Homo sapiens: one gene and its partner. Changing the gene in region 2 together with the main gene of any one other region gives a genetic interaction. Each region holds a gene or a part of one and is shown on either strand. Other genes may lie near its edges. The genes, in order: CARS2 and PGK1.

Region 1 (3,816 bases), on a different chromosome or scaffold from region 2:
ATTCCTTCACCTGTGAAATGGGGAGACTTGGTTCCCGAGGCTGCGTGGAGCAGCTCGGAGAGACTAGCAGGTGGCAGGTGCTGTGCTTGGGAGGCCCAAAGGCCATTTGAGCAGGACCAGCAGTTATGATGCCCGGCTCCATTCCAGAGCTTCACAGTGTCTTGTGCATCTGTTCATGTAGAGTTTTTCATTGAAATTATGAAATAACATGAGCGAACCTAGTCTTGTGTCTCAGCCTCCTTGGATAATGTGGCAGGGGCTGCAGATGCGTGCCCCCAAGGCCCCCACATTTGGAATTGATTGGACTGTTTTGATGGTCTATCTCCAGAAACCCAGCCATGGGACCCGAGGGAATGAGTACTCCATTAAATCCCAGTTGTAGTGTGTTAAATTACTTTCAAAATATTTCTTTAGAAGTTCCTTTTTGATCTTTCTTTTTTGTTTGTTTTGGAAGAGAGTCTTGCTCTGTCGCCCAGGCTGGAGTGCAGTGGCACCTTCTTGGCTGACTGCAACCTCCGCCTCCTGAGTTCAAGTGATTCTCCTGCCTCAGCCACCTGAGTCTCTGGGATTACAGGTGTGCACCACCATGCCTGGCTAACTTTTGTATTTTAAGTAGAGACGGGGTTTCACCGTGTTGGCCAGGCTGGTCTCAAACTCCCGGCCTCATGTCATCCACCTGCCTTAGTCTCCCAAAGTGCTGGGATTTATAGCTATGACCCACAACACCCAGCCTCCTCTTTAGTATATTTTTGACTATTTTTTTTTTCTCCTGAGGATTAAGGGATAAGATAGGAACCTAGTTTCTTATCATACAGACTGGACTAGGGTGATTTTGCCCTTGTCTTAGAAAAGTGGAGGATCCTTGGTATGTTTTGTTTTCTATTTTACTTTATTTTTATTTTTGTTTCGGAGATGGTGTCTCGTCCTGTTGCCAAGGATGGGATTGCAGTGGCACGATCATGGCTGTTCGCAGCTTCAACCTCATGGTCTCAAACGATCCACTCATCTTGGCCTCCCAAAGTGTTGGGATTACAGGCGTGAGCCGCTGCACCCAGCTGGTTTGTTTTTTACTATATAATGGAAATTGTGACATTATTTCTTCTCTAACCAGAAGACAAGGTCAATAAGCCTTTTTTTCTAGCTAAGCTACTAGTAAAAGTTCAGTACCTAAAATGAGTGCCCCCGCTTTGGTGAGTGGGTGGGGGCAAACTGAGGCCGAGGCACCGGAGGTGGCCGGGGTATGTTTGCTGTCGTGTTGTGCACGTGGGCTTTCTTGTGGCTGGGTGGTTCTGTTGCGAATGCCCCAGACTCATTAACGTGCACATCTAATCCTTCTGCAGATGAATATTTCCCCCGCTTCCCTCGCCAGTCTTTATGAGGAAGACTTCAAGCAGGACATGGCAGCCCTGAAGGTAAAGTGTGGGGCTGGTTGTTCCTGCCATGAGGGTGACAGGCGTGAGCAATGACAGCTGGTGCTGGCTGACCTGTGCTTCTCACGAGGGAAACACGGTCACGTCTCCACTTCCTTGCAGGTTCTCCCACCCACGGTGTACCTGAGGGTAACCGAAAATATTCCTCAGATAATTTCTTTCATTGAAGGAATCATTGCTCGTGGGAACGCTTATTCAACGGCAAAAGGTAGGGTTTATGTTCTTTTTTTTTTTTTCTTTTTTTTTTTTTGAGACAGAGTTTTACTCTGTCACCCAGGCTGGAGTGCAGTGGTGCTATCTCAGCTCACTGCAACCTCTGCCTCCCTGGTTCAAGCGATTCTCCCGTCTCAGCCTCCTGAATAGCTGGGACTACAAGGTGCGTGCCACCATGCCCGGCTACATTTTTTTTGTTTTGGTATTTTTAGTAGAGATAAGGTTTCACCATGTTGGCCAAGCTGGTCTCAAACTCCTGACCTTGTGATCCACCTGCCTCAGCCTCCCAAAGTGCTGGGATTACAGGCGTGAGCCACTGTGCCCAGCCGGTTTATGTTCTTAAAACTAAAACATTACTGGGATTTGGAGAAACTGGATGTATTTATCAGCTGTAGGAACATACTAAAATTTACTTCTGTCTTGCTAGGATTCCAACAGCAAAGCTGTTGTGGGGTTTTCTACAATATTGTGTCTCTTTGCGAAATGGTTGAATTAGTTCTAAATATCTTTTCCAGGGAGAGGGGAACGTCTGGACAGCTAGTCTTGGTAACAGTCGTGGAATCTAGGTGGTAGGTGTACAGGTGTTCATTGTGGTGTTATTTCATCTTTGTTTAGGTATTTTCCTAACAAAAAGTTGGGGACAAACACAGTACCTCCAGAGACCTGCTCTCTTCTTATTAAAAGTCAGCCCAGGTCACCCCCGTCTGTTTGGCTATCGTTTTTTCACAGGCCATTACGAGTGAGTTGCGGGAGTCAGAGGTTGCAGTGAGCCGAGATCACACCATTGCACTCCAGCCTGGTGACAGAGCAAGACTCCGTCCACCCACCCTCCCCTGCACAAAAAACAAAAAGTTGCAGGGCCAGGCATGGTGGCTGATGCCTGTAATCCCAGTACTTTGGGAGGTGGAAGCGGGTGGATCACTTGAGGCCAAGAATTTGAGACCAGCCTGGGTAACATGTTAAAACCTTCTTTCTACTAAGATGACAAAAAATCAGCCAGGCCTGGTATCGCGCGCCTGTGGTCCCAGCTATTCTGGAGGCTGAGGCATGAGAATTGCTTGCACCCAGGAGGCATAGTTTGCAGTGAGCCGAGATCACACCATTGTACTCCAGCCTGGGTGACATTGCCAGACTGTCTCAAAAAATAAAAATAAAAAAGTGAGTTGCAGGGCTGGGCGTGGTGGCTGATACCTATAATCCCAGCACTTTGGGAGGCAGAGGCAGGTGGATCACTTGAGTCCAGGAGTTCAGGACCAGCCTGGGCAACATGGAGAGACCCCTTCTCTACAAAAATAAAATATAAAAATTAGCTAGGCATGGTGGCGTGCTCCTGTAGTCTCAGCTACTCAGGAGGCCGAGGTGAGAGGATAGATTGAGCCCAGGAAATTCGAGGCTGCAGTGAACCATGATTGTCCCACTGCACACCAGCCTGGGAGACAGAGCGAGACCTTGTCTCAAAAAAAAAAAAAAAAAGCGTGAGTTGCAGATGTTCTGTCGCATCAGCCATGACACTTCAACATGCATCTCTGCATAAAAGGAGTCCAGATGTCATGGTCAGACCTCAGACAATGAAGAATTTCTGGCTAGCTTCGCGTGTCCTCTCTGTATTAAATATACTCACTTGTCCCCAGGGCATGTGCTGCGTGTGCATTTGTTGGTTTAGTCTCCTCACTTTTTCCCCTCCTCTTTCTTTTTTTCTTTTTTTCTCTTTTTTTTTTTTTTTCATTTTTTCTGGGTAAGCACATGTAGATTCAAGACTCTGACAGGTCAGTTTTCCTGTGGAGCAGTCTGTGTTTAGATTTGCATGTTGCTTACTGCAGGTGGTTTCATTGGTTTGCGGATGCTAATCTTTGTCTGGTGGACCCCAGGCAAGGCTGGCGTCTTGCTGTTTTGCTGCTTTGGTGATGAAGCATCGCCATAAATCCGAACTAAATCCCACCCATCCTGGCTGCAAACCCTGACCACAGCCTCATCTCTCCATGAAGTTCTCCTTCACCCAGCACAGTTGAAAGTGAACTTACTTTCTCAGCCTTGATATCTCTGCTGTACCATTTGGCAGCCAGTTCTGCACTGCCATAGTTTGCTGTTTAATGTATTCATATTTTGTCCCCATCTAGATCATAAATTCTCAGACCATAAAAACCTTTTGCTTTACTGAATGACGCCTTAAAGT
Region 2 (3,816 bases):
TTTGTGGGGTTTTTGTTTTGAGGCAGAGTCTCACTCTGTCGCCCAAGCAGGAATGCAGTAGCGTGATCTCAGCTCACTGCAACCTCCACCTCCCGGGTTCAAGTGATTCTCCTGCCTCAGCCTTCTGAATAGCTGGGACTACAGTGGCACACGCCACCACGCCCGGCTAATTTTTGTATTTTTGGTAGAAACGGGGTTTCACCATGTTGGCCAGGCTGGTCCCAAACTCCTGACAGGTGATCTGCCCGCCTTGGCCTCCCAAAGTCCTGGGATTACAGGCGTAAGCCACCATGCCCGGCCCCTTATACTGTTCTAGCTTATATGCACACAAGTTATCTACTATCTTCTTTGGTTAGGTTAAAAATTCCTTCAGAACATAAATGCTCTTATATTCCCTCTATCACGTCTTTAAGCACATAGAAGGAACTCAAATATTTGCCTAATTGACAAGTTGTTTATGACTGGAGATTCCCCCATTCATTCTTTAGGTTAACAACCCAAATAAATGAGGGGTGATCCTGGAAACAGTCCAGTAGAAAGTACTTAAAAGGTACAGTCAGAGATTGTTGGATAGATAATGTTGGCAATTGTAGAGTCTAGGTGCTGGGTTTATGGGAGTTTATGCTTCTTTCAGTTCCATTTGAAATAATTTTTAAAACGTTGGAGGAAAGGTAATCAGTAGGAAAAAGTCACAAAAATTGGACTAGAATTCCTGAGTACCCATAGAGGTATGCAGAAACATGGTACAATTTAAAATTAACTACAAATATGGGTACAGTATTAACTAAAATACAAATGAAGAAAAAACTTGAGCTTTCAAATTTCTGTTTTGTTTAGAGCAACCACCAAAATTTTCTTTTGCTATTCTATCCAGGGTTAAACAAAATAGTCTAGAAGCATCATGTCAGGGATAGAGTCTAGAAGCATCTATAGCCTAGAAGCATCATGTCAGGGACGGAGGCACATTGGAAAAGCATCAGCCACTGGAACCAGACAAACCTGGACTTGAATCCCTGCTGTTACTTACTAGCTCTGTGGTCCTGTCCAAAAGTTTATTTCTTTGTCCCTAAAGGTGAAATACATATCTTTCCAGCACAGAATTTCTGGTCAGACATGGCTTTTTCAAATCATGTTTACCTCTGCTCTCTCCCAAAACTCCATTAAAAGGACAGGAAAGAAATAGGAAGGTAAAATTATAAAGATGATGAAAGAATCCGAATGGCCATTTAGATTCTCAATAGTGACAATGAAACAGTGGCTTCGAGTCTCAAAAAGTGATACTCAGGCTAAAATTCTATATATAGCCAAACTAGGAATCAAGTATAAGGGTCGAATAAAGACATTTTCAGACTTACAAAGTCTTAGAGATTTTGCCTCCCAGGCACCCTTTCTCAGGAAGCTAGTAGAGTCTTGTGTTCTACAAAAAGTAGACCAAGAAAGAGGGAAAAGGGGGAATCCAGAAAACAGGAGTCTAACACAGGAGGTAAAAGAAATCCCCAAGAAGGTTATAGGAAATACCAGAGCAACAGCTAGCTGTACACCCTGCCTAGAGGGCATCAAGTACAAATTGGATAAAGGAGCACTAAGGACTCCTGCAGGGATAACTCTAACAAGGATTATTCAATATGTTTTAATATATTGAGACACTTATGCTTCTAGAAGATTTGGGAATGAATCACTGATGGGTATACACAGAAAATTTTTTGAAACACTGTTAATGCCAAAGACAATAAAAGTTACATAAGTAAATTTAATCATAGCATACTACATAGCTCAGCTGTATTAGTTATGTAGACTTTTGATCTAATCTATAATTGTGACAAAACTATACCGAGAGAATGAAGAAGTGGAAATATATGTGGAACAGAGCCTTCCTCCATGGTATGAAATAGATTTCTTTAAAAAATAAAAAAAAAAGAAGTGAACAATATAAGCATATTACTTAGAAACATGGAGGTATATACCTGAAAAACTCAAGAGTTGAAAGTGGTCACCTCTGGGGAGTGGGAATCTTGAATGGGAGGAATGGGCTGGGGCTTTTTTGTTATAAGCCTTGACTTTTTAAATTATGATCATGTGTAACTGATAAAAATAAAAGTTAGAATAAAAGCACTAGCACAATGTCTGCCATAAAGTAGGCCCTTGATAAAGAATGGACATTTATCTAATTGTCCCATCTCTCCACTGCTGCTGCCCCACTTCTTGCATTCAGCAATATAGACATCTGATCCGTTCCTCAAGATTCTATTCTCACCCTTCCTAACAAAGTATGACAGGAAAAAAAAAAAAATCACGGTTTCAATGGACACTTTTATTGTTTACTTAATGGATCATCAATTTTGTCTCACTACCTACAAATGGAATTTCATCTTGTTTCCATGCTGAGTAGTGAAACAGTGACAAAGCTAATCATAATAACCTACATCAAAAGAGAACTAAGCTAACACTGCTCACTTTCTTTTTAACAGGCAAAATATAAATATATGCACTCTAGAATGCACAATGGTTTAGTCACTAAAAAATTCAAATGGGATCTTGAAGAATGTATGCAAATCCAGGGTGCAGTGAAGATGAGCTGAGATGCTGTGCAACTGTTTAAGGGTTCCTGGCACTGCATCTCTTGGCCACTAGCTGAATCTTGACATGGAAGGTTTTAGCTAATGCCAAGTGGAGATGCAGAAAATGCTAAGTTGACTTAGGGGCTGTGCACAGGAACTAAAAGGCAGGAAAGTACTAAATATTGCTGAGAGCATCCACCCCAGGAAGGACTTTACCTGTTTTTGAGAGAGCACACATACATAGACAGCATTACTATAGGGCCCAGTAAGCCAGATTTCCCCCACTTTATCTTCCCAATAACATGCCAGCTCTTTTTTAGGATATATGGCCAGGAGCTGGCCAACTTTTACATTGTGGATTCCAGGTCTACTAGACCATAACTCTCAGACCAAGTTTCTATCTGTCCCTCCCCGCCTCAGTGGATGCCAGGAGCTTTATCTGAAGTTCCTCTGTACTGCCCAGGTAGTAATGACTGCTAATGACAACACTACCTTCTAACTTTCTCCACTCCATTCTACCCACCTCTCACTGCACAGTCCACCCTTATCCCAAACAAGCCAAAAAACAGAAGACCCTCACCTTCCAGGAGCTCCAAACTGGCACCACCCCCAGTGCTCACATGGCTGACTTTATCCTCCGTGTTCCATTTGGCACAGCAAGTGGCAGTGTCTCCACCACCTGTTGAATGAAAGCCAGGTAAAAAGGGAAAAGAGAGAAAAGAAAAAAAAGGGATTGGCACCAAAACTGTAAGGCAGTGTGCTCCCCAACCCAAAAGGTAGCTGATAAACCCCCAACTCTATCTTACCAAGAGGCTCCTCTGTAAATTACCTACCTGTTTACCTCTTAACATTTACCCAGAATAAAGAGACATAGAAGAAGTTCTCCATTCCACCTTCCTCTGATCAGAATTCTGCCAGCTTATATGGGTATTAGCTTTGTATAGGACCGCTTACCTATGATGGTGATGCAGCCCCTAGAAGTGGCTTTCACCACCTCATCCATGAGAGCTTTGGTTCCCCGGGCAAAAGCTTCCCATTCAAATACCCCCACAGGACCATTCCACACAATCTGCTTAGCCCGAGTGACAGCCTCAGCATACTTCTTGCTGCTTTCAGGACCACAGTCCAAGCCCTGAGGGGTAGAGGTGAAAGAGAAGATGAGCTATCAAGAAAAGCTACTTAAACACCACCTCCACCAAGACCAGAACTCAGGGCTGCACACCAAAGTTTCTTCTAGAAACAAATAGTACCCTTCAGT

Evidence for each region.
Region 1: changes in PGK1 (region 2) and CARS2 together harm fitness more than expected from each alone (negative genetic interaction), as found in Homo sapiens cells (one large-scale study listed by BioGRID).

The regions. Positions count from the first base shown.
Region 1 is NC_000013.11:110,685,543-110,689,358, reverse strand, and holds part of CARS2 (probable cysteine--tRNA ligase, mitochondrial), read left to right. Parts: intron 1-1,340; coding exon 1,341-1,412; intron 1,413-1,532; coding exon 1,533-1,638; intron 1,639-3,760; exon of another isoform or gene 3,761-3,816. UniProt on the Homo sapiens protein: Mitochondrial cysteine-specific aminoacyl-tRNA synthetase that catalyzes the ATP-dependent ligation of cysteine to tRNA(Cys). In addition to its role as an aminoacyl-tRNA synthetase, has also cysteine persulfide synthase activity.
Region 2 is NC_000023.11:78,124,748-78,128,563, reverse strand, and holds part of PGK1 (phosphoglycerate kinase 1), read right to left. Parts: intron 3,691-3,816; coding exon 3,513-3,690; intron 3,238-3,512; coding exon 3,139-3,237; intron 2,775-3,138; coding exon 2,734-2,774; 3' UTR 1-2,733. UniProt on the Homo sapiens protein: Catalyzes one of the two ATP producing reactions in the glycolytic pathway via the reversible conversion of 1,3-diphosphoglycerate to 3-phosphoglycerate.